Linked DNA regions of Homo sapiens. The protein of the gene in region 3 purifies or fractionates together with the protein of the main gene of each other region. This does not show direct contact. Each region holds a gene or a part of one and is shown on either strand. Other genes may lie near its edges.

Region 1 (9,578 bases), on a different chromosome or scaffold from region 3:
GGCACACGCCACCACATCCAGCTAATTTTTTTTTTTTTTGAGATGGAGTATCGCTCTGTTGCCAGGCTGGAGTGCAGTGGCACAATCTCGGCTCACTGCAACTTCCTCCTCCTGGGTTCAAGCAATTCTCCTGCCTCAGCCTCCCGCGTAGCTGGGACTCTAGGCACATGCCACCAGGCCCAGCTAATTTTTTTGTATTTTTAGTAAAGACGGGGTTTCACCACATTGGCCAGGGTGGTCTCGACCTCTTGACCTCGTGATCCGCCCGCCTCAGCCTCCCAAAGTGCTGGCATTACAGGCATGAGCCACTTGCACCCAGCCCATCCAGCTAATTTTAAAATTTTTTGTCGAGATGGAGTCTCACTATGTTGCCAGAGCTGGTCTTGAACTCCTGGGCTCAAGCGATCCTCCCAACTCAACCTCCTACAGCGCTGGGATTGCAGGCGTGAGCCATCACGTCTGGCCTTCTTGTAAATCTGTAGACTGGCTTTTTGGACGTGAACACCACAATGTGCTATGACACCTCGGGCTGGGCCATTATCAATTTGTAATTTTGTCCCTAGCATTTGAGCGCAGATCACTCTGCCACCCACTTGGTGGGGTGACAAGAACAAGCTTCTATCCATTTGGCAAATAGGAGCTTTCTTTGATTCGTCCTGACAACTTTTTTTTTCCTTCAGACAGAGTCTTGCTCTGTCGCCCAGGCTGGAGTGTAGTGGTACTGCAACCTCTGCCTCCCGGGTTCAAGCGATTCTCCTGCCTCAACTTCCTGAGTATCAGGTGCCTGCCACCACGCCCAGCTAATTTTTGTATTTTTAGTAGCGATGGTTTCACCATGTTGGCCAGGCTGGTCTCGAACTCCTGACCTCAGGTCATCCGCCCACCTTGGCCTCCCAGAGTGCTGGGATTTCAGGCGTGAGCCACCGCACCTGGCCCTAACAACTTATTTATAGCTGTGAGGGGAGAGTCTACCAATGCTTGATTTCCTGCCTGTAGCCCTGGATGACTTGGTGACCAGGTGACATGACAAGCAAGGCGCTAACAGGAAGAGGAAGCAGGAAGGGACTCTCCACGCCCCTCTGCTCTCAAGTAGCCTCAAGTTTTGTTGTCAAGATCAGTTCTACCTATGGGACAACTTTCAAGAATGGCACAAATTTTGACAGCAGCTATAGCTCACAAGCATTTGAAAATTAAGAGGTTGGCTGGCTGAGAGGCAAGAGTGGATAGGCAGAGATGAATAACGCATTTCCCAGCTCTTCTCACAGTGTACCTGTCCTTTAGGACCAGTTCCAGTGCTGAACCGATCTTAGGGTGTCCCTCAATCCTGGCCTCCCATGTGGGAGCCCAGATAGTCCTGCCCCCCAATGTGGGAGCCCAGATAGTCCTGCCCCAAGGCTGGAGGGAGAAAGGCCAGCTCCCCACGTCATCCCAGCCCCGCACCTCACCTGCGCTTCCCAGCAGCCTTTGGCAGCGTAGTCCCTGAGTTTTCGGAAGCTGTGGAGGCATCGCCCAGGATCTGACACCTGTCAATGGGAGATCACCGAGCCTTTGTACAACTGTGTCTTGGGAGGAACTCAGAACCAAGACCCAGAAGGGCCGACACTACGCTAACTTCCCACCTCTTCTCTCTCAAATGGTGGAGTCATTTTTGGGGGTACCAAGAATAGCCGACTGACCAGTGGTTCCCGGAGGCTGAGAGACCGGGAGCAGCAAGAGCCACCTCCCTTTTGTGGACAGAAACGCATCCAAGGACCAGCATCAACTACGCCTTTGTCCAGCATAACTCCCCCCGACCCAGAGCAGGCACCACTCACATCTGTCCTCCTGTCGCTTTCCCAGAGGAGGTAGGAGCTGGTCAGACATCCCTGATGAGCAGCCTCCTCAAACAGGTCATGGGCCTGCTGCTGCTTCTCCTCATCCTAGAATAAATCCCAGCAGAGTTCATTGTTCCCTTATTCTTTTTCATTTTTATTTTTTGAGACAGTTTCACTCGTCGCCCAGGTTGGAGTGCAATGGCGCCATCCTGGCTCACTGCAACCTCCGCCTCCTGGGTTCAACCAATTCTCCTGCCTCAGCCTCCTGAGTAGCTGGGATTACAGGAGCCCACCATCATGCCCGGCTAATTTTTGTATTTTTAGTAGAGACGGGGTTTCACCATGTTGGCCAGGCTGGTCTCAAAATCCTGGCCTCAGGTGATCCACCCACCTCAGTCTCCCAAAGTGCTGGGATTACAGGCATGAGCCACTGTGCCTGGCTGGTTTTTTTGTTGTTGTTGAGGCAGAGTCTCCCTCTGTCACCCAGGCCAAAGTATAGTGGCACGATCTTGGCTAACTAAAACCTCAGCTTCCCGGGTTCAAGCAACTCTCATGCCTCAGCCTCCCAAGTAGCTAGGATTACAGGTGCCCACCACCATGCCCGGCTAATTTTTGTGTTTTTTAGTAAAGACGTGGTTTCAACACATTGGCCAGGTTGGTCTCAAACTCCTGACCTCAGGTGATCCACCCGCCTCGGCCTCCCAAGGTGCTGGGATTACAGGAATGAGCCACCATGACCGGCCCTTATTCTTTACTTGATGTTCAATCACTCTACTCACCATCTTCCTCCTTTTCCATACTTTTTTTTTTTTTTTCTGAGACTGAGTCTCACTCTGTTGCCAGGCTGGAGTGCAGTGGTGCAATCTCGGCTCACTGCAACCTCCGCTTCCCAGGTTCAAGCAATTCTCCCTGCCTCAGCCTCCTGAGTAGCTGGGATTATGGGCACCCGCCACCACGCCCAGCTAATTTTTGTGTTTTTTAGTAAAGACGTGGTTTCACCATTTTGGCCAGGCAGAGAGGTCCACACGAGCAGGAGAGGCCCACGAGGAGCAGGGCCAGCAGACGAGTGAGCATCGAGGTTCGATGCCTCCTTGAGATCTGCTCTGCTGTTCTCACCGTCCCCCACTCCCCTGCCAGGCGGGTCATGGAGCCAGGATCGGAGCCCGTGGCCAGGCCCACATGTGTCCCCTGGCTTCTCCAGCTAGGCCTTTCTGGGCAAGGCTTGCCTTTTGTTTTGGGCCTTGGACACCCCCTTCTGCTGCTTTTCAGTTCCAGGATCTCGGCTAGGGATGTATCGAACACAAAGTCCCAGTGCAGAGAACAACTTGACTCACCTCGAACAGACTCAGCACTCTGCCCAAGCAGTGCAATATGGATGCTTTGTGAGTCTTTAAAAAAAGGAGAAAGAAGTGTGATTTCCAGCACAGAGAACTGCCCGGGGGCCACCACTCCCTTGTCTGTCTTTGGGTCCCATGCCCATGGCCCTGCTGTCTGGCCCTCCCTCCCCTGCAGAGGGCCACTCCCAGATTTCAGTCTTTTTTTTTTTTTTTTTTTAAAGGGAAACAGGGTCTTGCTCTGTCACCCAGGCTGGAGTGCATTGGCATAGTCACGGCTCATTGCAAGCTCAACCTCCCAGGCTCAAGCGATCCTCCCACCGCAGCCTCCTGAGTAGCTGGGACTATAGGTATGCACCACCACCCCTGGCTAACTTTTTTGTATTTTTTGTAGAGACGAGGTTTCGAGATTTCATCATGTTGCCCAGACTGGTCTCGAACACCTGGCCACAAGCAATTCTCCAGCCTCGGCCTCCCAAAGTGCTAGGATGACAGGCGTGAGCCACCACACCTGGCCAGATTTGTGTCTTGAGCTCCCACTGCCCCATGCAGCCTCAGCCCCATGTTTCCAGCTGTCAGCACGTGTACCCAGAACTCCACAGCCCACCCTGGCTCTCAGGCTTCCTCCTCTGTGCCAGCTGATTTCCAGATGCGTTCCCCATATCTGCACTCTCAGTTTTCTGCATCTTCACTTCCCTTAGGCTCCTGACTTTCCAGGGTCCAGGATCTACCCTCGGGGTCTTCCTGTGTCCTGGGACCCTGCAGGTGGCCTCGCAGGTGCTGCCCCTCGCCCAGACTCACCCTCTGCAGCTGGCACTCTGCCCTGAGGCTCTCGTGAACCACGGCCTTGCAGCAGCTTCCGCTCACCGACCACGGAGGGCGGATGAAGAGCCAGATGAAAGGTGCGGCACCCACATTCAGCCGCTCAGCGAGACTGAAGAAGCGAGAGGCCTTCAGGCCATTCACTTCTGCGCGGGCCTCATCAGACACAGACACTGCGGGGACAGACAGGACAGAGCCCAGGGATGTCTCTTAGGGACGGAATGTGGAAAGCTCTCCATGGTCTTGGTGGAAAGTGTAATGCCTGAAGCCCACCATAGTGCAAAGCAGCTGTGTTTCAGGAGAGTAGAGCCCTCCAGGATGGGGGCACCTGTCTTTTCTCCCCCTACTTCATTAATGTCTAGAACAGGTGGGTCATTGTGATCAATGCCCCTGCTGTGGTCCTCCCGGAAGCCTGGATTCTGAAGGTCAGGGGAAGGAGACCCCGCGACGCTTCATGTCCCACCCTCCCTCCAGCTGGGAACCACCGCCTGACCCCTGGTAATGGGTCCAGGGCAGGGGTGGGGGTTCTTTTTGGGACGAGGAGAATATTCTAAAATTAGACAGTGGCAATGGCTGCACAACCCTGTGAATATCCTAAAAAACCACAGAATTGCAGGCTTTAGAGGGGTGAACTGTATGGTGTGTGAATTTTATGTCTGGGAACTGCTCTTTGATGGGAGGGTAGGGGTAGGACCTCGGCTCCCCTGATTCTGGAGGAGGGTGTTGCTCATGGTCCCTGTCAGTCACAATTCTGCCAGCCGGCCAGGTAGGGACTCTCTCCCAGCAAGACACCAGATCGTTTAGAAGTACAAATGTGGGAGGCTACATCCCAGTGTTTACTTGTTTTGAGAGCTGGGACAGATCATGGGCTCGTTCCTTGGGGTGCTGAGCAGATAAGCAGTTAACTGGTAGAAGAAAAGGCTGCGCAAGTTTCTTTCAAGGAGCACCTGGCCTCTGGGGATGAAGGGATCCAGGCACCAGGCCAGTTCTAACCTGCCTGTACCTGCTTCCCGTTTAGAAGCCTGGCTCTGTGTTACAGGGCACGCTGAACTCTGTCTCGAGAGTTCTAAGAGGATGGCCAAGGAGAGGGCCAGCATCCACAGGCAGGTCTGCGTGCTCATGGCGCACAGGGCAGGGAGCCCAAACAGCCCCCGTGCTGAGGCTCTGGCTCAGTCACTCTTTGCCAACTGAAATTAAAGGGTTTGCTAAAACAAGAGGCGACTTTCGTAACCTGCAAAGTCAGAGTATCATTAGCAGGTCCCTCAGCAGGGTACATCTGGGCACGAGCTCCTGAGAGGGAATGGGGAGGCAGGCCATCGGATAGAGCAAGGACAGCAACTGAACTGCTAACACGGGGACCACTTCTTCATAGGGCCAAAGGCTCACACTTATCTGAAGCGCCAACATGCAGGTGGGGTGAGGACTTACGGCCTTCATTGTAGAGGTAGGCTATGCCCAGCTTCACAGCAGCTTCGAAATTCCCCTTTTCAGCAGCCCTGAAACATTAAGAACATAAAGCATCACAATATTTTATGCCACAAACGTTATGAACTACTACAGCACTTGAAGAAGTCAGAATACTTGTTCCCTGAATTGAATATATATATATATATATATATATATATATATATATATGTGTGTGTGTGCATATATATATGTGTGTGCATATATATGTGTGTGTGTGTGTGCATATATATATATATATCTCTCTCTCTCTGAGACAGGGTCTTGCTCTGTTGCCCAGGCTGGAGTGCAGTGGTGCGATCACAGCTCACTGCAGCCTCAACCTCCTGGGCTTAAGCCATTCTCCCACCCCGGCATCCCAAGTAGCTAGGACTACAGGCATGTGCCACCATGCTCAGCTAGTCAAAAAAAAATATTTTCTTTTCTAGAGACAGGGTCTTGCTATGTTGCCCAGGCTAGTCTTGAATTCCAGACCCAAGTGATCCTCCTGCCTTGGCCTCATAAAGTGCTGGGATTATAGGCTTGAGCCATCATGCCCGGCTCTAGAACATTTCTTTTTTTTTTTCTTTTCTTTTCTTTTTTTTTTTTGAGACGGAGTCTGCTCTGTTGCCCAGGCTGGAGTGCAGTGGCGCAATCTCGGCTCACTACAAGCTCCGCCTCCCAGGTTCACACCATTCTCCTGCCTCAGCCTCCCGAGTAGCTGGGACCACAGGTGCCCGCCACCACGCCTGTCTAATTTTTTCTATTTTTAGTAGAGACGGGGTTTCACCATGTTAGCCAGGATGGTCTCGATCTGATCTCATGATCCACCCGCCTCGGCCTCCCAAAGTGCTGGGATTACAAGCGTGAGCCACCACGCTCGGTCGAACATTTCTTAATAACATGTAATCAAATACGAATTATCCATTACATGCTATGACACAGATGAACCTTGAAAACATCAGGGTCCGTGAAAGAAGCCAGCCACGAAAGACCACGTGTTGCATGATTCCATGTGAAATCCTCACAAAAGGCAAATCCGGAGAGACAGAAAATCAATTAGGGGTTGTCTAGAGTTTCCAGGATTGTGGGGAAAATGGGAAGTGACTGCTGATGGGGACAAGCTTTCTTCTTGGGGTAAGGAGAACGTTCTAAAGTTAAGTACTGGTGATGTCTGTACAACTCTCAGTATACTAAAAACCAATGAGTTATACATTTTATTTATTTATTTACTTATTTATTTATTTTGAGACGGAGTCTCGCTCTGTTGCTCAGGCTGGAGTGCAGTGGTGCGATCTCGGCTCACTGCAACCTCTGCCTCCTGGGTTCAAGCAATTCTCCTGCCTCAGCCTCCTGAATAGCTGGCATTACAGGCATGTGCCACCACCCAGCTAATTTTTGTATTTTTAGTAGAGACAGGGTTTCACCATGTTGCTCAGGCTGGTCTCAAACTCTTGACCTCGTGATCCGCCCGCCTTGGTCTCCCAAAGTGCTGGGATTACAGGCGTGAGCCACTGTGCCCAGCCATATTTTATTATTTTATTATTATTTTTTTGAGACAGTCTTACCCCATCACCCAGGCTGGAGTGCAATGGCGCAATCTTGGCTCACTGCAACCTCCACCTGCTGGGTTTAAGCAATTCTCATGCTTCAGCCTCCAGAGTAGCTGGGACTACAAGTGCCCATCACCGCATCCAGCTAATTTTTGTATTTTTAATAGAGACAGGGTTTTGCCATGTTGGCCGGGCTGGTCTCGAACTCCCGACCTCAAGTGATCCACCCGCCTTGGCCTCCCAAAGTGCTGGGAATACAGGTGTGACGCCACACCCGGCTGAGTTATACACTTTAAATGGATGAATTGTGTGATGTGTGGATAATGTCTCAATAAGAAATATATACATTCCCCCTGGAAGCAGCCCAAGCATGGCCGCGGCAACATGGCTGCCTGCCCTGGTTGGCTGTCGATCTGGATTTCTGGCAACTCAGATGGACGAGGCTCACAGCGAATCCCTGTCAGAAAAATGCCCGCCTGAGATCAGGAGGTCAGGAGATCGAGACCATCCTGGCCAACATGGCGAAACCCCATCTCTACTAAGAATACAAAAATTAGATGGGCGTGGTAGCGCGTGCCTGTAATCCTAGCTACTCAGGAGGCTGAGGCAGGAGAATCGCTTGAACCAGGAGTTGGTGGTTGCAGTGAGCTGAGATTGCACCACTGCACTCCAGCCTGGTGACAGAGCGAGACTCCGTCTCAAGAAAAAAACAAAAACGAAAACAAAAAACAAAAAACAACAACAAAAAAGAAAAATCCCCGCCTGAGCTGTGGTTCCTTGGTTTGTTCTGAGGGCGGCGGGTACCTGGGACCATGAGCACATGTGAACAGGGGCCAGGGTGCGGGGTGCAGGTTGGGGTGGGATCAGCCAGTGAGTGAAACGCTATAGGATAGAATTCAGATGGTTTTGACCAAAGGGAAGGAAGGCTGAGTGAAGTTTCCACAGGAAGGTGACTCTTGTCTGGGTCATGTGGGAATGGATCACAGCCCTCTGGAGGCACCACGGGCCCGTGTCAGTGGCGTGAGGGATGACTGACTGCATAGCCTGCTGGAAGGTGTGTGGCTTGTGCGGCCTGATGCGTGAGGTCTGCCACCCTCAGTCACTCCCCAGGGTATGAGGCAATGTCATGGGAGACAGCAACAGGAAAATCGTTGCTGAATCAGGCCGTGAGACACAGACTGGCACATAGGGAGGCCAAGGCAGGAGAAGACTGAGCCATTCTCAGGGTGCAGAGATACCTTTCAAAGAGCTTCAGGTTCCCTGGAGACGGCCACAGCTCCTGGAAGCTGGCACATGCCCACACACTGGCGTGGTTGTCCACCAGGTCCTTCAGCTGGGAGTGTACCTGCAGAACAACGGGGGCCGGGGCTGGGTGATGGAGGCACCACCCAAAAGCCCCACACCTGGAGGCTCTTGAGGACGAGAGGCAGATGTAGGGTCTCCTGTCTCCCTCGCCATCCCAAGTAGTTGAGGTCCCCAATCTCTGTGTGAAAGTAACTGTCACTTTGAGCAGATAAAAGAGCCCAGAAACGAGTTTCTCTGAGGTTCTAAAGCAGGGCAGAGGACAATGATCTGGGAAGGAGGAAACAAACACCTAGGCTGAGAAAGAGGGTTCAACATCCCTGCAAAGGTATCACCCCCAAAGACAGGGGAAACACTCTAAAAGGGGGCAGGCAGGACGGAAATGTGTTTTGTGCTTCCCCGCTGGAGGCCTTGCTAGTGGGAGTGTGGAAACAGGTCACAGGGACTCAGGGCAAAGAACAACACCCATGATGGAGGTCTCAGGTAGAACCCGGAGCCTAAGCGCTGGGCCAACGCAGGAGTGTCCAGGCCAGGACCTGGAGCACAGGTGAACACTTTAAGCACCAAAGTTTCCACTGCCATTGGAAATTCAGCACCCCCTGGGGTCCATAAAGTGTGTCGCACCTGCAATGGAGGTGGCTTTGGGAGTCAGAAAATGGGTTCTTGCTGGCATTTCCCCATGAATCCACTATATACTCTAGGTTAAGTCACTCAAAGTAAGCCTATGGTTCCAATATCTAGAAAATAACTCCTAGAGTCCATTTCAGTGTTAAATGTTACATGGAATTTGTCCTCAAGAATGTATTCTTATTCTTTTAAACACTATCCTATTTTTTAAGGGATGCAAATTTCACTGCCATAAAAGGGTACTTTCAGCCGGGTGCAGTGGCTCATGCCTGTAATCCCAGCACTTTGGGAGGCCGAGGCGGGCGGATCACGAGGTCAAGAGATAGAGACCATCCTGGCTAACACAGTGAAACCCCAACTCTACTAAAAATACAATAAATTAGCCGGGCGTGGTGGCGGGTGCCTGTAGTCCCAGCTACTCGGAAGGCTGAGGTAGGAGAATGGCATGAACCTGGGAGGCGGAACTTGCAGTGAGCCGAGATTGCGCTACTGCACTCCAGCCTGGGTGGCAGAGCGAGACTCTGTCTCAAAAAAAAAAAAGGTACTTTCTTTGTTGACACTGCAATGAACAGAGGCAATTTTAGTGTGCTAGGAGACAGCAGTAGGAATTTCTGTAATCAGAATGTCTTAAAGAAAGCATCTGGTAATGATATCATCCTTGTTTCCTTTTTGCCCTCCTTTTT
Region 2 (9,578 bases), on a different chromosome or scaffold from region 3:
TTTGGTTTGTGTAGGGAAAAGAGAGATCAGACTGTTACTGTGTCTATGTAGAAAGGGAAGACAAAAGAAACTCCATTTTGACCTGTACCCTGAACAATTGCTTTGCCTTGAGATGCTGTTAATCTGTAACTTTGCCCCAATCTTGAGCTCACAGAAACATGTGTTGTATGGAATCAAGGTTTAAGGGATCTAGGGCTGTGCAAGATGTGCCTTGTTAACAAAATGTTTACAGGCAGGCAGTATGCTTGGTAAAAGTCATCACCATTCTCCAGTCTCGATAAACCAGGGGCACAATGCACTGCGGAAAGCCGCAGGGACCTCTGCCCTGGAAAGCCAGGTATTGTCCAAGGTTTCTCCCCATGTGATAGTCTGAAATATGGCCCCGTGAGATGGGAAAGACCTGACCGTCCCCCAGCCCGACACCCGTAGGGGGTCTGTGCTGAGGAGGATTAGTAAAAGAGGAAAGCCTCTTGCAGTGGAGATACAGGAAGGCCACTGTCTCCTGCCTGCCCCTGGGAACTGAATGTCTCGGTATAAAACCCAATTGTACATTTGTTTAATTCTGGGATAGGAGAAAAGCCACCCTGTGGTGGGAGGTGAGACATGTTGGCAGCAATGCTGCTCTGTTACTCTTTACTCTACTGAGATGTTTGGGTGGAGAAAAGCATAAATCTGGCCTACGTGCACATCTAGGCATAGTACCTTCCCTTGAACTTATTTGTGACACAGATTCCTTTGCTCACATGTTTTCTTGCTGACCTTCTCCCCACTATCACCCTGCTGTCCTGCCACATTGCTCTTGCTGAGACAGTGAAAACAGTAATTAATAAATACTGAGGGAACTCAGAGACTGGTGCTGGTGAAGGTCCTCCGTATGCTGAGCGCCGGTCCCCTGGGCCCACTTTTCTTTCTATATACTTTGTCTCTGTGTCTTATTTCTTTTCTCAGTCTCTTGTCCAGACTGACTAGAAATACCCACAGGTGTGGAGGGGCTGGCCCCCTTCAGGTTTGCTCATTAAGGTTTACAAAATTGAGTGAGCAATGATGAAGGATAACAACCAGCCCGGCAAATTTGAACTCACGGGCATTCCTCCTAAACCCTTTGGATTTCCACAAATTTAAATAACTTTTTATATTGATGCCAACAGCATCTCAAATGTGTTTGCTGTTGATAAGAGATCAGGAAAAAAGAAGATTAAAAGACAAATGACCCAGTGTTTGCCCATGGAAACACTGAGTATTTGGTCCAAGAGGCATAGAAGTACAAAGCTGGAAAACGAGAAACAAAGAGACAGAGTTTCTTGTAAGAAGTTGCTCAGATCCTATGTATTCAATAGGCCACAGTGAAAAATGAGAGACGGCAAAGCAGAATCAAAGATGAAGTCAAACACAAGACTCCTGACAAGTGCAATGGAGTCATCAATGACTGGTCAAGAATCTCATTACTGAGAAGGAAGAATTTAACATCAGCCAAAAGAGCTGGAGAGGGTAAAAACCCTGCCGTTATCACAGTGTAACAGAGCTAGCACCATGCTAGGTGCTTTGCTAGGGACTTCCCTAGAAGTGGTTGCCCATCCTCTAGAGGTGTGTCTTCTGGAACCATGACTACAGAAACAGAATAAGGCAACCAAAACTCAACATGAAGTTTGAACATGAACACACAGTCATGAAATCCTACTCTGATTTGTAGGAAGTCAGTTTAGTGACAGTTTTTTTAAAAAATCATACTTGGGCTGCTATTTCATATATTATTAGACATTTTGAATATCTGAATATACACAGGGTAAGGAAATACAGTTGCACTTTATCCACATGATAAATAGGTAGAAAGTACAATTCATGATAGAGGACAAAGGCTTTTAAAGTTGGCATCACTAAAAAAATAAGAAAAACAGTGAGTCCAGACTACTTAACTTAGTGTAAGACTGTCCCTCCCCAGCCCCAATACATACCTACAACTTCCCATTTCCTATCACTGACAGCACTACTACCTTGAGACCACCGGAACTGGTTTCATTGTGTTCTTTATCCCTCTTTATATCATCAATACCAGAAGTCCCAAATTCCCCTTTTATACTTGTTTACTGCATTGTAATTCCCATAAGGCTCTGCACATTCCCTATTTTCTCCCACATCTTCTCCACCCCCTCAACTCCTGATATCCTTCCACTGTGCCCCTGGAACTCACAGTCTTTCACAATTCCATACAGCTTCAATATCTTCTCTGAATAGACCCTTCACCTCCTTGCTCTAACTAAAACCTGAATATTCCATGAGGATCCTGTTTCCTTTGTAGGCTTCTTAAGTGGTAGATGTTTTTCCCACATCAGTCTTCTAGTAAGCCTGGATGGAGTCTGTATCCTTCCTGAAACTCATTGCTACTTCCAGACTCTTTGCTCTCCCTCCTGTGTAAATTCTTCCCTCAGCTTTGAATCTCAGGCCATGAGACTCTGCCACCCTCTACCCCTTTTTCTTGCAGTCACCTACTAACTCTCAGATCATTTCTCCTCATTTCTTAAGGATCTTGGCATAATTCACTATTACTCTCATTAACACTACTCCTGTCTTAATTACTGATTTCAAAATCTACACAGATGTCCCTTTTAACATTTAGGCCCATCAGTTCCTTGAATTTTCTCCACCAGTGATATTTTCCTTGACACTATCTCAGCCAGTAATTCTAGGAGTTACACCCTACACTTTAGCAATATCAACAGTAAAAGCACTGAATAATCCTAGTTTCTAAACATTTCTACCTCTAACCTCCTACCTTTCCACTCACTCCTGCTAGTGCCTCAATTCCAACAATCCTTCAATCAATACTTGACCTACCATCCATTGATCATACTGCCATTCACCTCATATCCCCCGACCATATCCTTTGCCCAAGACTGTGGGAGCCCACCTCTTGCATCACTGTGACCTGGATGTGAACATGGAGTCAAAGGATATCATTTTAGAACTTTAAGACTGTCCCACTGGATTTTGGACTTGCATGGGGCCTGTAGCCCCTTTTATTTTGGACAATTTCTCTCATTTGGAACAGGTATATTTACCTAATGCCTGTACCCCCATTGTATCTAGGAAGTAACTAGCTTGCTTTTGATTTTACAGGCTCATAGGCAGAAGGGACTTACCTTGTCTCAGATGAGACTTTGGACGGTGGACTTTTGAGTTAATGCTGAAATAAGACTTTGGGGGACTGTCAGAAGGCATGATTCATTTTAAAATATGAGGACATGACGTTTGGGAAGGGTCAGGGGTGGAATGATATGGTTTGGCTGTGTCCCCACCCAAATCTTATCTTGAATTGTAGCTCCCATAATTCCCAATTCCCATGTATCATGGGTGAGACCTGGTAGGAGGTAATTGAATAATGGCAGTGGGTCTTTCCTGTGCTGTTCTCATGATGGTGAATAAGTCTCATGAGATCTGATGGTTTTATAATGGAGAGTTCCCCTGTACACATTCTCTCTTGCCTGACTTCATGTAAGACATCCCTTTGCTTTTCCTTTGTCTTCTGCCATGATTGTGAGGACTCCCCAGCCATGTGGAACTGTGAGTCCATTAAACCTCTTTCCTTTATAAATTACCCAGTCTCGGGTATGTCTTTATTAGCAATATGAGAACAGACTAATAAATCTTTCCTTAACTAGGTTAAATTTGATAGCAAATCATATAACCACTACCTTGAATACACCTTCAGTATACTTCACTTGCCCTTTCCTCACTTCATGGTGTTTGCTTGGCAAAACTCCCATCCATGTTAAATCCATTTTTTTTTTGCTTACACTGATATAACTGGCCATAGCTGAAGAAAGACACATACAGTCATAATTACTGTTTTAGGTTAGGTTCCCAATAAACAGATCATGAGAAAAAAAATTATATACAAGTGACTTATTAAGGAAATGTTTGGGGAACTAATAAGAAATTTGGGGAAGCAGGTCAAGAAAGGGGAGAAAGCTAAGCAAAGGTGTGATCTAAGACAAAGTCCCTTAGAGGGTAGCTTCAGCCTGATCTCACCAGTGTGTAGGTGGGGGTAAAGGTAATGGGGGAACTCTGCCGTGTCAAAGTTCAAAACATGTCTCTGAAGCAAGGATAATGAAAATTTCATACTTCTGAATCACTATTGGTTAAGGTCCACCTCAGGTACTACAACAGTAAGAGCAAAGGGTGCTCCAATAGCCTGAGGGCAGTTTACCAAAAAAAGAGGCATAGATGCTGTTTATTGGAAGCAAAAACCAACAAAGGCAGGACATGTACAGCAACACTAGAAAGGGATCCAAGAGGATCTGGACAAAGCATTAGTAATATCTACTGAAATATCTATTCTTGCTTCAAATTCATGACCTCAGCAAACCTCAAAGTGAACCACATCTGGCAATCATATTTCCTTAGCTCATTTATTCTCCCATTCTCTTGGATGGCTGTTTCATAATTCTCTCTCCTCAAACCTCAAACACTTTCTTCTCCATCTTCATTCTCAGCTAATTAATTACCTAGGTTCCTATTTCAACGAGCAAATAGGAGCAATCAGATGAGAACTTCCACAAGCTTACACTACTGTATCTACTGCATACAATAATCTGTACACATATATTCTGTCTTCCCTCCAAAGTCTGCAGAAGGACGTGCACATTTCTATCTAAGGGCAACCCCTTCTCTTGCATATTAGAGTCCTGCCTTCTTAAGGACTTCTTTCCAGGCCTCTCTCCTACACAAAATTTTCTCTTCTAGATTACTGTCATCAGCATACAAATATGATGTTATTTTTTAAAAAGCTTTCTCTTGACCTCACTTCCCCCCTACTTAAAACATTTCTATTTCCTTTCGTAGAAAAACTCCTCAAGAGATTACACGTCCTCCTCCTATCTTCTTAAACCCATTTCAATCAAGCTTTCATTCCCTTCTTTCCATTAATACTACTTTTTCAAGATCACTAATACAAACCATGGTTTTCCCCCACCTCTTTGGCCACTTCTTCTAAGACTCCTTTGTAGGTTTCTCTTAATTTGCTAACTTCTTAATATTGGGGTGCCTTGGACTCAGTCTCCAAACCTCCTTTTTATGTGAACTATTTTCTAAGTAAGACCTTCGATCTTATGTCTTTAAATATCTTCTTTTTGTCGATGGCTCTCAAATTTATATGTCTAGTCCAGATCTCTGCCCCGACCTCAAGACATAACCAACTGCTTACTATACATATCTACTTGGATGTCTAAAAGGCATCTTGAAACTTAACACTCCAAAACTGAGTTCCTCAAATTTCCCCCTCAAATCTGCTTTTCTATAGTCACCTACATTTCAGTTCACAATAACCCTATTCTTTCAGTTACCAAGGCAGAAATGAAATAATCTTCGTCTCTTCCTTTCCTAGCCCACATTTAATCAGTTAGTAAACCCTTCAAAATACAGTCATGCATTGCTTAATGACAGGGATGTGTTCTGGAAAATATGTTGTTAAGTGATTTTTGTCACGTGTAAACATCCTAGAGTGCACTTACACAAACCTAGATGGTATAGCCTATTATGCACTGATATATAATTATGTTTTATGATCATAAATGTCTCATAATGGAGTCACTTATGACAAGTGACTCAGCTTACAGTGAAATCACTGACCACTCAGAGTAGTAAGCATATGTGTGGTGGACTGAGGTGATAAGATAGCATCTGCTGTGGCCAGGCATCCCTGACACCTGACAAGAAAGTAAAGCCAAAAGTCAGCTGAAGATAATGGCCATGGAGATGTCTGTGGAGAGCCGTAAAAGCCAATCATGGCTGAGATGCCTGCAGAATCTCTGCCCATGAGAACTCTGAGGCCTCCTTTCCTTTGGCTGTGGTAAGCCCTCTGGGAAAAGAGCAGCTACCCACCACCAGGTCAGTGGGCATTCTGAGGAAAACCAAACCTGGTTTTCTCAGTCAGTGTGCTGGTCTCCCAGAATACTTGCTGTGTTTCCCTTCTCTATTAATGCCTATGTGTGTTGGATAGAGTTACATGATTGTTGTGTAGAAGCCACACAATAAATCGTGAATTCCTAAGCATTTAATTGGCACTGATTCGTTGTGAAACTTCTCAGCTGGTTGGAGTTAGCATAAATAGGCTGATTTGAACCCGATAGGACACACCTGAGCTCTGTGGTACAGCCTGCTGCTCCTAGGCTATAAACCTGTGCAGCATGTGACTGTACTGAATACTGCAGGCAATTAATTGTAACAAAATGATAAGCATTTGTGTATCTAAACACATTTAAACATAGAAAAGGTACAGTAAAAACACAGTATTATAATCTAATGGGACCACTGCCGTATATGCAGCCCGTCATTGACCAAAACGTCATTATGCAGCATGTGACTATATACTTACACTATGACCACTTCTTACCCATTCTACACTCCCACTCTGGTCTATGCCACTGATATCTCCCTGCTGGAACACTGTAATACATTGGTGTCCTTGCTTCTGCCCTTGGCCCCTTCAGTCAACTCTCAACACAAGAAGCAGAGATTCTGTTTTTTTTGTTGTTGTTGTTTGTTTGTTTGTTTAAAGATTACTTCCCTCCTCTGCTCAAGCATGTTTTAAGTCTCTCTCCATCTCAATTCAAAGTAAAAGCCAAAGTCTCTTTATTGCCTGACAGGGTCCCTGTTGCCCTTGCTTACACTACTTCAGGCATTTGGGCTGTGTTTCCTCAACACACTGGGCACACATCCCTTCCAGGGCCTTTGCATTAGCAGTCCCCTCTGTCTGGAACACTCTTTTCCTGGATATTTACATGGCTCACATTTTCATCCCCCTTCAAGTCTTTGCTGAATGCCGTGTGCTCGAGGAAATCTTCCTGCCCCACACCCAAACATTTCCTATTCTCTTTTCCTCCATGTTACATATCAACTTCTACATTGTAAAGTTCAGAAGCTGATTTTCCTGTCTGTCTTCTACAAATACAATGGAAGTTCCAGGGAGGCAAGATTATTGTTACATCCTCAGTGGTTGATACAGTGCCAGATACATATTAGGCACTCAGCTGCAAATCACAAGTTTTGTTGTATCAAGCTATATAATACTTTCATTATTGATTAATTCTAAATATTTTATCTTTCCAATAAGATTTAATTTTTGCAAATTTTAAAAGTAAATCTTGCAGATAAAAAGAGTATTTATGAAATTGGTAAGGCATGAGGAATAGTAATGCCACAAACACCATTTTCACTACCCGGAGAAAATTACTGTCTTTGAAACCCTGTATGTCCTTCCCCTTGAGTGACTACCATTCTGAATTTTATATTTATCATTCCCTTGAAGTTTATCTCTGTATATAATATACTGTTAATTTCTTCACGTTTTTCATTCTGTGTTATGTACAGCTGTAGCTGAATCATTTTCACTGTTGTATGCTACTCCATTATGTGAATATACTGCAATTTATTCATCCATTCTGTATCTATAGACATTGTGTTGTTTCCTGGATTTTTGCTATTACAAACAGTACAATGAACATCTTTGTAGATTGTCCCCTTATACTGTAGTACAAGAAAAGTCTCAGGAGTATGTATCTATGAGTAGAACTGCTAGGTCATAGGTCATGTGTATCTTCCCAACTTCATTTTTACAAGATCATGTTGAGTTATTTTTCAATAGCAGCTATACTAATTCACACCCCTATATGAGTCCCTGTTGCCCCATATCCTGATGCTTGATATTGTCAGATTTTTTTTTTTTTTGAGACGGAGTCTGCCTCTGACTCACCCAGACTGGAGTGCAGTGCTGTGATCTCAGCTCACTAAAGCCTCTGCCTCCCAGGTTCAAGCAATTCTCCTGCCTCAGCCTCCCGAGTAGCTGGGATTTACAGGTACCCACCACCACACCCAGCTAATTTCGTATTTTTAGTAGAGACGGGGTTTCACCATGTTGGCCAGGCTGGTCTCGAACTCGACCTCTGGTGATCCACCTGCTTCAGCCTCCCAAAGTGCTGGGATTACAGGCATGAGCCACTGCACCCAGTCTATTGTCAGATTTTTTAAAAGTCAATTTGGTGGTGTGAAATGGTTTCTCATTGTGTTGTTTTTTTTTTTTTAATTTGCATTTCCCTTATTACTACAGTATAATAAAGTTGAGCATCATCAAGTTTTCGCCCATTTTTCTGGTGAGCTATTATAGTTATATTCTGAATATTTTAACCATTATATGCACTGAAAATATTTTCTTCTGTCTTTTCACTTTAAGTCTTTTAATGAAAATTTATCAGTCATTTCCTTTGTGGTTTCTGCTGTTGTCTTTAAAATATTTTCTTCTCTAAAGTCAAAAATATAACTTACACATCTTCCAAACATTTATAGTTTAACATTCAGTTCTTTTATCTACCTGGAACTGTGTGAGATAAAGAGTCTAATTTCTATTTCTTCATACAGATAACAATTATTCCAGTATAACTTCTTGAAAAGTTCTTCTTTTCCCCCCACTGACTCTCAGTGCCAACATTGTCACTTATCAAACTTCTATAAATATGTGGGTCTTTCTGTGAACTCTCTGTTCTATTTTATTGGTCTGTCTATCTCTGTGCTAATATCATACCATCTTAACTCAAATTTCCCACCTTGTGGTTCTTTAAAAATGTTTCTGCTATCCTTAGCCCTTCGCTCTTACACATAAAATTTAGGAGCACTTTTTCAAATTAGAGAAAAAAATTAGGATTTTGATTGTCATTGCTTTGAATCAATAGATCAACTGGAAGAAAAAAGTTTGCAATATTGAATATTCCTATTCAACAACATGGCATCTCTCAATTTTTAAAATTCTTTTTAAGGTCCTAATAAAAGTTTTATCATTTCTCTACAAAGGTATTGCACATCTTTTACTTAGGTAATTTATATTTTTGATGCTCCTGTAAGTTTTTGAAAATTACATTTTAACTGTTGCTAAAGTAGAGAAATGCAGTTGATTTCTGTACACTGAACTTTGATAGTCTTTTACTGTCTATGTAGATTATTGGCTCTTTAATCCATGAATCACTTAATTTATAAACATGTATTTGTTAGCTATCTTCTGTTAAACTTTTGGTATTAAAAAAACACATATTCCTTTTTTTTTTTTTTTTTTTTGAGTCTCACTCTGTCACCTAGGCTGGAGCATGGTGGTGCAATCTTGGCTCACTGCAACCTCCCTCTCCTGGTTCAAGCGATTCTCCTGCCTCAGCATCCCAAGTAGCTGGGACTACAGGCACGTGCCACCACGCCCGGCTAATTTTTGTATCTTTAGTAGAGATGGGGGTTTCACCATGTTGGCCAGGCTGGTCTTGAACTCCTGACCTCAAGTGATCCACGTGCCTCGGCCTCCCAAAGTGCTGGGATTACAAGTGTGAGTCACTGCACCTGGCCAAAACACACATTTTCAAAATATAAAGATTGATTCTTTTGAGTTTCTGAGACTTCCTTCATGGCCTATGTGTTTTCAATTTTTATAAACTTTTTCATGTGTCCTAGAAATGAATGTGTGTTCTCTGTGGGATCCAGAGTTCCATATATATTTATTAAACCAAGCTTATACAACATTTCTGGAAGCAATTTTTATACCACAACTA
Region 3 (5,667 bases):
AGGTTGCAGTGAGCTGAAGGCACACCACTGCACTCCAGTGAAAAGAGAGAGAAAGGTTCAACTTTCTATGGTTAACAGAGGATTTCATGCCACACCCTCAGCTTTAGCTTAGATCACCTTTCCAGCTGTCTTCTGGATGTCATTTTTGCTTGGAAGCCACTGAATTTTAGCCTAAGAGCACTGAGTGCTGCTCATCGCTAAGGACCTGCTCACAGTTTAGGGGAAGTAGCTCCTTAGTGACAAACCCAGGAGAGCTGCTCTCCGTCAGTCATGATGGAGGCCACAGCACCACTGAACTGTCACCATCTAACAAGGACCTTCACCTCTGCCTTCTCAAGACTGAGGCTTGCAGTCAGGCCCCCAGAACTCCTCCCACATTTTAGGACTCTTGAAGTCAATGCTGAGTGCTCCCACTTCGTGGCCTCTGCTTGCTGCCCTCCCCAGATGTCACCTTTTATCAGGCACCTCCTACCACCCTGAAAGAGCTGGGTCTCCTCACCAGGGCATGTGCTACAACCCCAGTGTCTACCACCCTCCACCTGACACTGCTTGAGGTCTCCATAAACAAGCTAAGTAAACAAGAGCTTCTGCCCTCTTCAAGCTCCTAGAACAAAGTTACCTGAGCCCATCCCTGGCTTAAGACCAGCCCAGCATCACTTGGAGGGATCTCCGGGACAGGTCGCTGTGGCGTGGACTAGTGGTCACGTCTGCAGGCAGCAACCACGGTCCAAGGGTGAAGGCAGTGGGAGCAGGGCACCCTCAGACTGATGATTATCCTGCTGCAGGGTCTCTCCCAAGAGACAGGGAAGGCTGTCATGCCAGTGCTGATGAATAAGCATCAGACCAAATGTGACATGTGACACCTATTAAAGAAGGCCCCCGGCCACACGCAGTGGCTCAAACCTGTAATCCCAGCACGTTGGGAGGCCGAGGCAGGCAGATCACTTGAGGTCGGGAGATCGAGACCAGCCTGACCAGCATGGAGAAATCCTGTCTCTACTAAAAATACAAAATTAGCTGCGTGTGGTGGCACATACCTGTAATTTCAGCTACTTGGGAGGCTGAGGCAGAAGAATCGCTTGAACCCGGGAGACAGAGGTTGTAGTGGGCCATGATTGCACCATTGCACTCCAGCCTGGGCAACAAGAGCGAAACTCTCAAAAAATAAAATTAAAAAAATAAAGAAGGCCCTTTACCCAGCGCCACTCACTGAGTGCCACTTGCTTCAGACACAAGAAAGGCAGACACAATTCTGACCCTCCAAACATGTCAGCTCTCACGGCAGCTGGCCCACCTGGCAACAGCCCCAGTCAGTGAAAGAGGGTTCTTTCCTTTTTATTTTTGCAATATCCCATACAAAAGCAATAGAAACGTAACAGTCTTAACAAGAAGTTTACAATTGAATATTTGAACAGAAAATCTGTACACATTATCATTTACAGCAATTTTACATGGTAAATTAACTGATTGTTTTAAAATGTTCTTTCTAAATCGCTCCACTCTGCTGCCCTAACTCTTGGAGTATTCTAAAGAGTCTAACTAGTGCTATTTACAAGTACCAAATTAAGACCATATAACTTACATAAAACTCATTAGTTTAATAGCTCAATTTAACAATGTCTGACTTCAGAATGCTGTTATGACATATTGATAAAAGGCCAAAAATTAAGTTTCCATAAAGATATTAAAGGTGTCTGAGAATACTTTGATGCCTATAAAAGTAGCTGACTCTCAATTGGTCCCATGGATTACATGGTTAAATCCAAAACAGTCCACCTGACAAGCAATAACTGAAGATGCCTGTGGAAAACCAGTTATGTAGACGTGTCAGCTTACCCTGGAGGACAACAGGGATTACGCAATTAAGCTCGCTGGAAGAGAGCTTCAAGTACTTTCTTGGACTTAGCTCCATTTACAATTTAAAACATGCAAAATATACTCACTATACATAAAATTAATGTTTCTTAAGAAAGTAAGGCAAAAATAATTCAGCATGAGCTAATGGACTGCTAACAGAGAAACCACCAGGTACAAGTGCACACACATGCTTGGTGCCTGGCCAGCCTTCCACCTAGTCGGGGAGGAGCTGTTTCTCTTCCTGGCCGCCAGGGGGCAGTTAGCTCATGGCTGAGAAGTCTCTCAAGGGTTCAGTTAAACAAGCTTCCAAATCAAACTCATCCTCCACTTGACTGTCCATGTGTCTCACCTTGGTGGGTGTGCCAGAGTACACATCCTGGAAAACAGAAGCATGGCTCGGTTGACATTCATCTCACCCTGAAAACAGGGGCCCCTTCCTACACCCCACTCCTTATGTGGTAAATCATGTGATGTAATGCACAGCAAGGTGTACACTTCACGTGCAACTGAGACAGATTTTAATAATAACACTGCAAAGAGAAACCACATGTACCATTTACAAGACACTGACGTTTAGATGTGCACACATCCCATTGTGCTGGGATTACAGGAAGGAGTCACTAGTCACTGTGCCTGGCCATGTACATAGTTTATAAGCACAGAAAGAATTGTAAAAGCCTAGACAAAACCACAAATAGTGGCTGTCTCAGGACAGGAGACAGTATTTAAACTGATACATTTAAAAACGGTTTTCTTTTCTCTTGAGACAGAGTCTCACTCTGTCACACAGGGTGGAGGGCAGTGGTACAATTTCGGCTCATTGCCACCTCTGCCTCCCGGGTTCAAGTGATTCTCCTGCCTCAGCCTCCTGAGTAGCTGGGATTACATGCCTGCATGACCACACCCAGCTAGTTTTTGTATTTTTAGTAGAGACTGGGTTTCACTATGTTGGGCAGGCTGGTCTTGAACTCCTGACTTCAGGTGATCTGCCTGCCTCAGCCTCCCAAAGTGCTGGGATCACAGGCGTGAGCCACCACGCGCAGCACATGGTTTTCTTTCTTTTTTTTTTTTTGAGACAGAGTCTTGCTCTGTTGCCCAGGCTGGAGTGCAATGGCGCCATCTCAGCTCACTGCAACCTCCACCTCCTGGGTTCAAGCTATTCTCCCACCTCAGCCTCCTGAGTAGCACGGACTACAGGCACCCACCATCATACCTGGCTATTATTTGTATTTTTGTAGAAACAGGGTTTCACCATGTTGGCCAGGCTAGTCTTGAATTCCTGACTTCAGGTGATCCGCCTGCCTTGGCCTCCCAAGGTGCTGGGATTACAGGCGTGAGCCACCGTGCCCAGTCCAAACTTCAGTTTATAAGGCAGCATGTGTTATTAACAATTCACCTGCAACCCCCAAGCTGAAAGACTTATCCAAAGTACTTACAAAGTCATCCTGAGAGCTGGTCTGGGGCTCGGAGCTGCTTTCTGCAGATTCAAGGTCTACAGGGTGTCTGTTAAACAAGATCCAACATGTGCGTCAGGCACTAACTTAACAAAGCCAGGAGACGGGGCGCTACAGACAAACCCCATCCATATGGTACAGCCACAACACTGACAGTGTGCCCGAGGCTCCCTGAGGGGTCAGCTTTCAGTGACTATTTGACAGACTTAATCCCAGCCCAATCAATCCAGCAAAGAGAAAGCGGATGGCAATGAGAAGCAACAAAAAGATCTGCTGGGCTCACCACACAAGCATCCTTGGAAACAGAAACACTCATAAGCCCAATTTTTGAGGGGGAGAAATGAGCACTGTGATGAACATACTATGCATTATCACTAATTTTTCCAAGTTTCTACTCAGAGAATGGGACAATGGTGTCACACTGGGGGAAAAAACCCAAATGACATCTGTCAGGACAAACTGGTAAAGCCACTTACAATCGTTTCAAACATGCCAGTCTCTAAAAAATTTCCCAGCACAGAGGAGAAACTCTAATTGTTTGTTTAAAGAATGTGTCTGAGGAAGCGAGAGGCTCAGGACCAGAGGGGAGCTGAGAAGAAACCCCACATAGAGGGAGGGAGGTACACGATCATTCTCTCTACCTTCCTGGTCAGCAGGTATTGCCATGATGCAGCAAAAGTTCAGGCCTGAGACATTTCAACTAGGCACAAGTTTAAAGGCCAACGGGGCTGGGAGCAGTGGCTCACCCCTGTAATCCCAGCACTTTGGGAGGCTGAGGCGGGTAGATCACAAGGTCAGGAATTACATGGTGAAACCCCGTCTCCACTAAAAATACAAAAAATAGCTGGGCGTGGTGGCGCGTGCCTGTAATCCCAGCTACTCAGGAGGCTGAGGCAGGAGAACCACCTGAACCCAGAAGGTGAAGGTTGCAGTGAGCCGGGATCACGCCACTGCACTCCAGCCTCGGTGACAGAGCATCTCCCAAAAAAAAAAAGCCAACAGAGAAAGAAAGCCTTCCTTCCTTAATTAAGAACTTTTATTTTCATGGTTGAGCCGAAATGACTCAAATACTTTTTAGGATATTTATATTTAAAAAACAAATTCCAGAGATTATTGTAATTTTTAGGGGAAAAACAACTACAACAACAAAAACAGCAAAACAACAAACAAAAACTGTATTCCCAGATTGACTTTGCTTGAAAAAATAAATTCAATCCAGGAAGCAAACTCTTCCTTCCAGCTGCCTCCCTCCCAGTACAGAAGAACTCAGCACCGAGCTGCAGCAGCTGCTCTGCTCCCCAACAGCTGCTGGGGGACTTGGCACCAGACCTCCTGTCCCAGTGGTGCGCAGCTGCTCCAGTCACTGGACCAATCAGAGAATCACAGGACAAGAATGCAATAAAGACATACATTTCTTGCAAATCACATCCTTCTTCCGCTGGAGGATCCCAAAAATGCAGAGCCACCTTCCAGAGTTTGATTTGCTGGTCCCATGAACGTCGACTATACTTCTTAAATTTATTAGGGGTCTTGGGATGAATGCCAGGTTGTCGAAGGTGTCTACAGGAGAAAGATTATTCTAGCACATGCCCACATGCCACTCACATTTCCACATTAGCCTGAAGATTAACCAAACTATGAGATTAGTATTATTTTAAATATTACAGATCACCAGGCATGGTGGCTCATGCCTGTAATCCTAGCATTTTGGGAGGTCATGCCAAGATCACTTAAGCTCAGGAATTTAAAAATGGCCTGGGCAACACAGTGAGACCTCGTCTCTATTTAAAAAAAACAACAAAACAGAACAAAAAAACAGCTAGGGGCTGGGAGCGGTGGCTCACACCTATAATCCTAGCATTTTGGGAGGCCAAGGTGGGTGGATCACCTGAGGTCAGCAGTTCGAGACCAGCTTGGCCAACATGGTGAAACCCCGTCTCTACTAAAAATGCAAAAATTAGCCGGGCGTGGTGGCCTGTGCCTGTAATCCTAGCTATTAGGGGGCTGAGGGAGGAGGATCGCCTGAACCCGGGAGGCAGAGCTTGCAGTGAGCCGAGATCGTGCCACTGCACTCCAGCATGGGCAACACAGCGAGACTTCACCTCCAAAAAAAAAAAAAACAAACGCTGCTGGGTGTGGCAAATCACTTGAACTCAAGAGCCTGAGATCAGGCTGGCCAACATGATGAAACCTCATCTCTACTAAAAATACCAAAAATTAGCCAGTCATGGTGGCTTATGCCTTGAGTCCCAGCTACTCCAGCGGCTGAGGCAGAAGAATTGCTTGAACCTGGGAGGCGATGGTTGCAATGAGCCTAGATCATGCCACTGCAACTCCAGTCTGGTCAACAGAGCAA

The links.
Region 1: the proteins of SLBP (region 3) and CCNF purify together in Homo sapiens (affinity purification with western blotting; 2 studies listed by BioGRID, with this or other methods). This does not show direct contact.
Region 2: the proteins of SLBP (region 3) and ACAD11 purify together in Homo sapiens (co-immunoprecipitation; 2 studies listed by BioGRID and IntAct, with this or other methods). This does not show direct contact.

The regions. Positions count from the first base shown.
Region 1 is NC_000016.10:2,431,694-2,441,271, reverse strand, and holds part of CCNF (cyclin-F), read right to left. Parts: intron 8,312-9,578; coding exon 8,205-8,311; intron 5,467-8,204; coding exon 5,399-5,466; intron 4,144-5,398; coding exon 3,950-4,143; intron 3,203-3,949; coding exon 3,149-3,202; intron 1,920-3,148; coding exon 1,815-1,919; intron 1,524-1,814; coding exon 1,446-1,523; intron 1-1,445. UniProt on the Homo sapiens protein: Substrate recognition component of a SCF (SKP1-CUL1-F-box protein) E3 ubiquitin-protein ligase complex which mediates the ubiquitination and subsequent proteasomal degradation of target proteins.
Region 2 is NC_000003.12:132,648,788-132,658,365, forward strand, and holds part of ACAD11 (acyl-CoA dehydrogenase family member 11), read right to left. Parts: intron 5,884-9,578; exon of another isoform or gene 5,643-5,883; intron 1-5,642. UniProt on the Homo sapiens protein: Acyl-CoA dehydrogenase, that exhibits maximal activity towards saturated C22-CoA.
Region 3 is NC_000004.12:1,691,481-1,697,147, forward strand, and holds the end of SLBP (histone RNA hairpin-binding protein), read right to left. Parts: intron 4,872-5,667; coding exon 4,722-4,871; intron 3,361-4,721; coding exon 3,294-3,360; intron 2,234-3,293; coding exon 2,117-2,233; 3' UTR 1,251-2,116; downstream 1-1,250. UniProt on the Homo sapiens protein: RNA-binding protein involved in the histone pre-mRNA processing.